Homo sapiens: one gene and its partner. The protein of the gene in region 2 purifies or fractionates together with the protein of the main gene of each other region. This does not show direct contact. Each region holds a gene or a part of one and is shown on either strand. Other genes may lie near its edges.

What was found.
Region 1: the proteins of ANGPT2 (region 2) and ITGAV purify together in Homo sapiens (affinity purification with western blotting, with the first as the bait; one study listed by BioGRID). This does not show direct contact.

Annotation. Positions count from the first base shown.
Region 1 is NC_000002.12:186,596,231-186,600,266, reverse strand, and holds part of ITGAV (integrin alpha-V isoform 1 preproprotein), read right to left. Parts: intron 63-4,036; exon of another isoform or gene 1-62.
Region 2 is NC_000008.11:6,511,246-6,514,745, forward strand, and holds part of ANGPT2 (angiopoietin-2 isoform b precursor), read right to left. Parts: coding exon 3,432-3,500; intron 2,600-3,431; coding exon 2,433-2,599; intron 1,922-2,432; exon of another isoform or gene 732-1,921; coding exon of another isoform or gene 687-731; intron 1-686. UniProt on the Homo sapiens protein: Binds to TEK/TIE2, competing for the ANGPT1 binding site, and modulating ANGPT1 signaling. Can induce tyrosine phosphorylation of TEK/TIE2 in the absence of ANGPT1.

The DNA of each region.
Region 1 (4,036 bases), on a different chromosome or scaffold from region 2:
TATGTGAGGCAGAGGTAGAAAGACCCTGGCAAGAAAGAATTGAATCTCCAGGAGCTACAAAGAAAGGTATGGCTGAAGGAGGGGACAAGCCGGGAGTGGCACAAGATAAGGTCAAGGAGCCTGGCAATAACTAAGTCAAATAGGGCCTTTTGGCCATGGTTAAACTTTGTATTTTATCCCAAGGTTCATTTGAAGCCACTGAGTTTTTTAAGAAGAATGAAATCATCTACTAAAGAAAACTAAATGTTATGCCCTATGGGGAAAGCATTAAGGGAGAGGGAGAAAAAAATGGAACAAGGAAAGCAAAGGACTGGCCGCAGCTCAGGGAGCAGGTGAGTGTGATCTGCAGTAAGAGGGTGGGTGGAAAGATAGGTGACAGATGGAAAAAAACATCTGGAGTACAACAGCAATCGCTGGAGGCCTGAATATGAGAGAAAAGACATTCAAGAATGCCACCTAGATTTCCTTCTTGAGTGCATTGATGGGAGAAAAGCCTAGAGAGCAGAGAAGCAGAAGGCAGATTAAGTACTTACAGGAGTTCAAGACTAGCCTAGGCAACATAGTAAGACCCCCATCTCTACAAAGAATAAAACAATTCACTGGGTGTGGTGGCATGCGCCTGTGGTCCCAACTTTGGGGGTGGAGCTGGGGTCCTGAGACAGGAGGATGGCTTGAGCCCAGGAGGTTGAGGCTGCAGTGAGCTGTGATTACAAGTGCTACAAAGTAAGCAAACAGCCTGGGTGAAACAATGAGTCCCTGTCTCAAGAAATAAAATAAAATTAGTATTTACAGAAAAACCATGAATTCAATTATTAATATGTTTGTTTGAGATATCTGTGAGTCATCCAGTTGTAGTCTGAAGCCCTGCCTGAGACAGTATGCTGTATCAGAACACAGTTGGGGTTATTCAGCCAGGGGAAGCGTCGAAAGAGGAGGGGCAATGAGTGAGTTCTCAGGGACAACAACATTTAGGAGTCAAGAAGAGAAAGAAGATAAAGTAAAAAAGATTTTTGTCTTTAATCTCAAGAAACTGATTGAAATATAGGAGGAAATAAAGCAGGATACAGGCAGACAAAAACAGTCCTAAAATGCTATCACCATAATCATTTTGTTTCATTAAATACTAAGTCACTTAAATTATTCTGGCAAAGGAAACATTTACAATTGCTTTTCACCTTTTTGTGAAATTAGAACGAATGTACATCTTAAATATGGAATGCATTCACTTGAACTTTTAAAATCAATTTCTTATTCTGGGTAGTAGCTGCCAAATCTCATCTACAGTAGACAAAAGCTGGCTGTACGAATTGCAGGGTTACAAAGAATCCTGCTTTCTGACACTTATCTTAAAAATCCACAAATTCAAAATAAAGACGTAACTCCCAACCAAACCACGCCCTATTTAATAGAGCTCCATGCAGTCATATCTGGCATCAGTAAAACACCAATGTTGGCTCTCTCCCATCACGGCAAAATGATTCTGGGTAGAAAATGAACTTAGTTTTCATTCAGCAAAAGTCTTTCATAAGAAAAAAAGAGGTTGGGCACAGTGGCTCATGCCTGCAATCCCAACACTTTGGGCGGCTGAGGCAGACAGATCACTTGAGGTCAGGAGTTTGAGACCAACATGGCAAAACCCCATCTCTACTAAAAATATAAAAATTAGCCAGGCGTGGTGGCATGAGCCTGTAATCCCAGCTACTCGGGAGGCTGAGGCAGGAGAATCACTTGAACCTGGGAGGTGGAGATTGCAGTGAGCCAAGATTGCGCCACTGCAGTCCAGCCTGGGCAACAGAGGAAAACTCTGTCTCAAAAAAAAAAAAAAAAAAATGCTATGAGTAAGAGAGTCCCCACCTCCCATAACTAAGAGAGCAGCTCGTCATCAAAACCCCATCGGTTCTTTTTCTAGAGCAGAGTTGGTTAACACAGTGAAACTCTGTGTGTGTGTGTGTGTGTGTGTGTGTGTGTGTGTATAAATTATAATATGTAAATTTATTACATATACAATTTTTTTTCTACGGGTCTAAAATTTGACCCCAAAATCACACAACTACCCCTTTTCATCAGAATTAAATGATTTTTGAGTGCATACTAGAACAAAAGAACAGTTCAGGTAAGTTTGCTTTTGAGGGTCAATATCTTGAATAGTGCTTGCTTGGGACATTGCCACAGTAGTCCTAATGAGAGTAATACAAGCACAGGTATGTACACGTTCTTAGTGTTGTAGATCATACCAGGTTCTACATCAGGATAGGAGAACTGGTTCTCAAGCTTTGCCTGGAAACCTACAAGCAAAAATCACTTCTGGGTTGTCTTCAAATAGTAGCTCACAGCAGTGGTCCCCAACCTTTCCTTCCCTGGACATAGAGGGGGATGCTTTCGGGATGAAACTGTCCAACTCGGATCACCAGGTATTAGGTTCTCATAAGAAGCATGTAACCTAGATCCCTTGCATGCACACTTCACAGCAGGGTTCACACAATAGGGTTTGCTCCTATGAGAATCTAATGCCACCACTGATCTGACAGGAGGCAGAGCTCAGGTGGTAATGCTCACTCTCCTGCTGCTCACTTCCTGATGTGCAGCATGGTCCCTAACAGGCTATGGACTGGTACTGGTCCATGGCCCGAGGGTTGGGGACCCCTGTCTTACAATATATTTTATAACTTTTTGGTCAAAACTATTCTGCCTACCTTATGATAAATTGCTTCTTTGAATGTAGGGTACTCTAATTCATCTTTTGCACCTGCCACATTATAAGAACTCAAGAAAAGTTTAAATGGACAGTGGAGTAACAAAGTAAATTCAATAGCTATGTCTCAATCTTAAAGTAGCCATATATAAATAAGTCATTTCCACTACGTCTGAACCCCTCAAGAATGCAGAAAGCATCCTCTATTAAACATCCAATTATTTAAATTACCCTTAAAACAATTTCCTTGTGTAACATCTCTACTTAATTTTGGGTTTCAGATACTTTCTTTACTTGGCACTATAAGACAGAGAGAGCTCGGAAGTTATTAGGAGAAGGCCTTCAACAAAGACAGAGAAAAAGAGCCCAGTAGGAGCATTCTCTGAATGAAAACACCACTCTATTGGCAGCACATAGCATGAGTTCCTTGAATAATACCAGGAACAAGCCTGTTGCTTTTCATCAGGCTATCTGCACATTATAGGCATGAAATGATGGTAATCAGGTGTACAAATGGATGTTCATTAAGTTTTCCTAAGCATACCTTCATGTGCAGACTTGCATACTGGTGAAATGCTACAGAAATGGCAGAATAATATAAAAGGAATGTGTCAATATCTACATGCTAAATTTGTGAGGGAAAAAAGCTGATGAAGTTTTTCATCCAAAATGCCATCTCGATATTAAAGTTATCATTAAGATATTTAAGTTTTTTAAAGAGAACAATGAAGAGATAGAGAAAGTAAAATGACCTTAGACATATGTTAAAGTCTTACGAGGAAGCTGTGTAGTGAAAAAGAAATACTTGCATAGAAAACTGGGTACAAGGTGATAAAAGATGCTATATAAAAAAATTAAGGAATAAAAAGCAACACAGGCCAGGCACGGTGGCTCATGCCTGTAATCCTAGCACTTTGGGAGGCCAAGGCAGGAGGATCACTTAAGGTCAGGGGTTCAAAACCAGCCTGGCCAACATGGTGAAACCCCATCTCTACTAAAAATACAAAAGTTAGCCAGAAATTGCTTGAATCCAGGAGGCGAAGGTTGCAGCAAGCCAAGATTGTGCCACTGCACTCTAGCCTGGGCAACAGAGCAAGACTCCATCTCAAAAAAAAAAAAAAAGCAACACATACTACAAAAAACAAAGTTAATAAAACACTCCATAAAAATAATTGTTACTTGAATTTCATCTAAGAATGACTAATGAAAGTGTACAACAGCTTAATTAGGGTAAGAGAACTGACAGACCAGAAAAAAAATGTTTGTGATCTAAGCAGCACTATCTAATGGAAACAGTTTGGAATTAAAATTTACAAACACTGCAAATCAATTGAAGCAGTAACT
Region 2 (3,500 bases):
GAATGGCCACGTTCTTGAAGTTGCTTTACATTGGTATGGGTTGATTTTTTTTTTTCAATCTCTGCAGCTTTGCCAGGGATGATTTTATATAACAGTGGAGTAAAGAGGTAACATCAACATTAACAATTAAACCTCAGTGTTATATAAAACTGCCAGAATGTGTGTGAAAAGTGATGAATTTTTAAGATTTAATGTACGCATAGCTTTTAGTTTCACTAGAAAGAATGAAATTCTATTGATGCATTTATGCATTTCTTATAACATGTATTTTCCAGTTTTCCAACACTTGGGGAACATTTCTTCTGGGAAAAAAAAATCCCTTACATGCTGCATACAACTGGCGTCTCAAAGCATTTGCAGTTATGAGAAGTTTCAGTCCCTTCACAGTTCTCTTATCATGCTAGCATCATGTTTTATTAGGATAATAATTTTCGATGTAATATCTATTTTATCTTGCCAAGCAAATTAAGCTTTAAACCAATGTGTGTGTTTTTCTAAATGGCCTATCCAAAAATTGATTGCATTTCTAAAGGAAATATCTGTTAAGAACCATCTCAGTTTAAAATATTTTTATAATGTCAGCGTACAAGGGTAATGACCCATTTTGTAAAAATCTTTTTATACAAACAGCCTAATCCTTAATTTTTGTGCTTCTTTTTTTTTTTTTTTTAATTCTTCTGTTGTAGATTCCTAACTGTTGCCAGTTGAAAAAATATTTAACTTGGAGGTAAAACACTGACCAACCACTTGTGTCTCAAAATTCATTGAAGTTTTGATCTCTTTGGAGTCAAGTTGGAACTGCTGTGAGGCCCAAACACCTATCTTCTCATTCATCTCGGTTGTTGCCTCTCCAGGAGAGCCTGATCTTTCCATAATGAGAATAGTGAATATGCTTCACTGATGTTTAAAGAGTCACATCCATGTATATCTGTTTCTCAAACATGCTTCTGAATTTTCATCCACTGTTTGTACAGCAGGACATACTGGGCATTGTAGAGTTTTCAGTTGGTTGTTCAGGCAACTTGACATTTAGCCGCTTCTCCGTGCTGCCCACCACAATCCTCCCCTGGGCAGCCTGCTCAAGGACTTTAACATTGTGTCTCCTTTCAGACTGTTCAGGTCGTGGAGCGGAGTGTCTGACTTGGGCATTAATGAGATGAAGACGAGACTGTAGGTCAGATGATGACTGTTTTTGTGATGTTCGTGTTGACCTTCATTTGCTAATTTCTGACCTCAAAGTGGGTATTTCATAATGTGTGCTCCATGATCACGAGGCGCCACCAGTCTGTGCTCTTTAGACTCCTTTAGGCTGGCGTTGGTGCCAGTGGGCACACAGTCTCACTTCTCTGCCCCTCCCGTTGCACACACATTTCGGAGTGCCTCTATGTGCCTTGTGTACCAGCATTACTGTGCATGTGGCTTCACCGTACTTATCTTGCACACTAGGTTGTCAAGTCCCATTGCTGTTCTCTCTCTCTACTCTCATGGCATTTTAGAGGCAGAAAGTAAATTCCCAGTCAAGGTTGCCCATGCTATTACTTATGATTATTGCTACCAAATGGGTGAGGACAAGGTAAACACCCAGGGAATGCTGTGAATCTGATGTATTTCCTGTAGAGGAGAGCAGAGTTGACTAACCATCCCACCTAACTCTGCCATCTCTAAACTTGACAACTAATCTTGACTTTGAGATTGAAGACAATTGAATGTGTTTAAACTTCATAAAGACAGACTAACTTTTGAAACCTTTTGGAATAAAACAGCACAGTCACAAGTATCCATCATTTATGCTATTCATGTGACATATTATCATGGGAACACTTACTATTCACTGATTTTACAAATACCTATGAAAGCCAATTATCTACCAGGCAGAGTTCTTCTAGGCTTTGAAGATACACAGTAAACACAATGGACAAAATACTGTTTGTATGAAGTTTCTTTTATATTGTTATAACCAAAGTTAGAATTTTAAACCCAGAGAAACTTAAAGAAGTAATAGTTTAGATCTTGGTTAAATCATTGTGTTTCTCATTTTCTGGAATAGTCACCCAGCAAACCTTTTAATTTTTTTTTTCTTTTTCTTTTTCTTTTTTTTTTTTTTTGAGACGGAGTCTTGCTCTGTCGCCCAGGTTGCAGTGCCGTGGCACGATCTCGGCTCACTGCAAGCTCCGCCTCCCGGGTTCACGCCATTCTTCTGCCTCAGCCTCCCGAGTAGCTGGGACTACAGGCGCCCACCACCACACCTGGCTAATTTTTTTGTACTTCTAGTAGAGACAGGGTTTCACTTTGTTTGCCAGGATGGTCTCAATCTCCTGACCTCGTGATCTGCCCACCTCGGCCTCCCAAAGTGCTGGGATTACAGGCGTGAGCCACCGTGCCCGGCCACAAATCTTTTAATTTTTTCTTTCAATTACCATGAACTCACTTACCTATAATTGAGTTCTTCACTTGAGAGATAGAAATGTTCATACAATGAGTAAGCCTCATTCCCTTCCCAGTCTTTAAGGTGTATTTTAAGCACATAGCGTTGCTGATTAGTCAGTTGCGAAACAAACTCATTTCCCAGCCAATATTCTCCTGAAGGGTTACCAAATCCCTGTAATGCAAGTTGTTAAATTCAATTATTTCATGTAATTTTTTCTTTGTATATTTGAAGTGGATAGTCCGTCAACTTAACATAGAATAACTATCAAATAGCAGAAATTCCTTCTGGTGCTGTGACAATTTAGGGTCCTTCCCAAAGGAAAATGGATTTTAAATAGGTCAGTTATTAGACACTAAGCTGCTGCTGGAAGAAAACTTGTATTAGGATAATGAGAACTACTTGGGGAGCCACCAGCAGAAGCCTTGGCATAAACAGCTCAGTTCATGGGAATGTGAAGCACCATTAAACAGTCGGCTTACCAAAAAAATGCTGAGTCCACCTTTAAAAATAAGCTAAGTAGTGGCAGCCTTGTTTATTTGAGAGTCTTACTCTGTTGCCCAGGCTGGAGTGCAGTGGTGTGATCTTGGCTGACTGCACCCTCTGCCTCCCAGGTTCAAGCGATTCTCCTGCCTCAGCCTCCTGAGTAGCTGGGATTACAGGTGTGCACCACCACACCTGGCTAATATTTGTATTTTTAGTAGATACAGAGTTTTGTTATGTTGGCCAACTGGTCTCAAACTCCTGACCTCAGGTAATCCATCTGCCTCGGCCTCCCAAAGTGCTGGGATTACAGGCGTGAGCCAGCACGTCTGGCTGCAGCTTTTGTTTTGATACAGTTTACCTTATATTGGCCATTCTTTAAAGGGGAGACTGAAGCACCAATTTTAAAAACCATGTCAAAAGTCATTGGTTAGTTTGGGATTGGTGGTTAAGGTTCCGCAGATCTTGAAAGCTATTTTTCACAAGGGAAATTCTTTTCTGATGCCTTAAAGAATGTCCTTACCACTTTATATTCTTTCCAAGTCCTCTGAAAATCAACGCTGCCATCCTCACGTCGCTGAATAATTGTCCA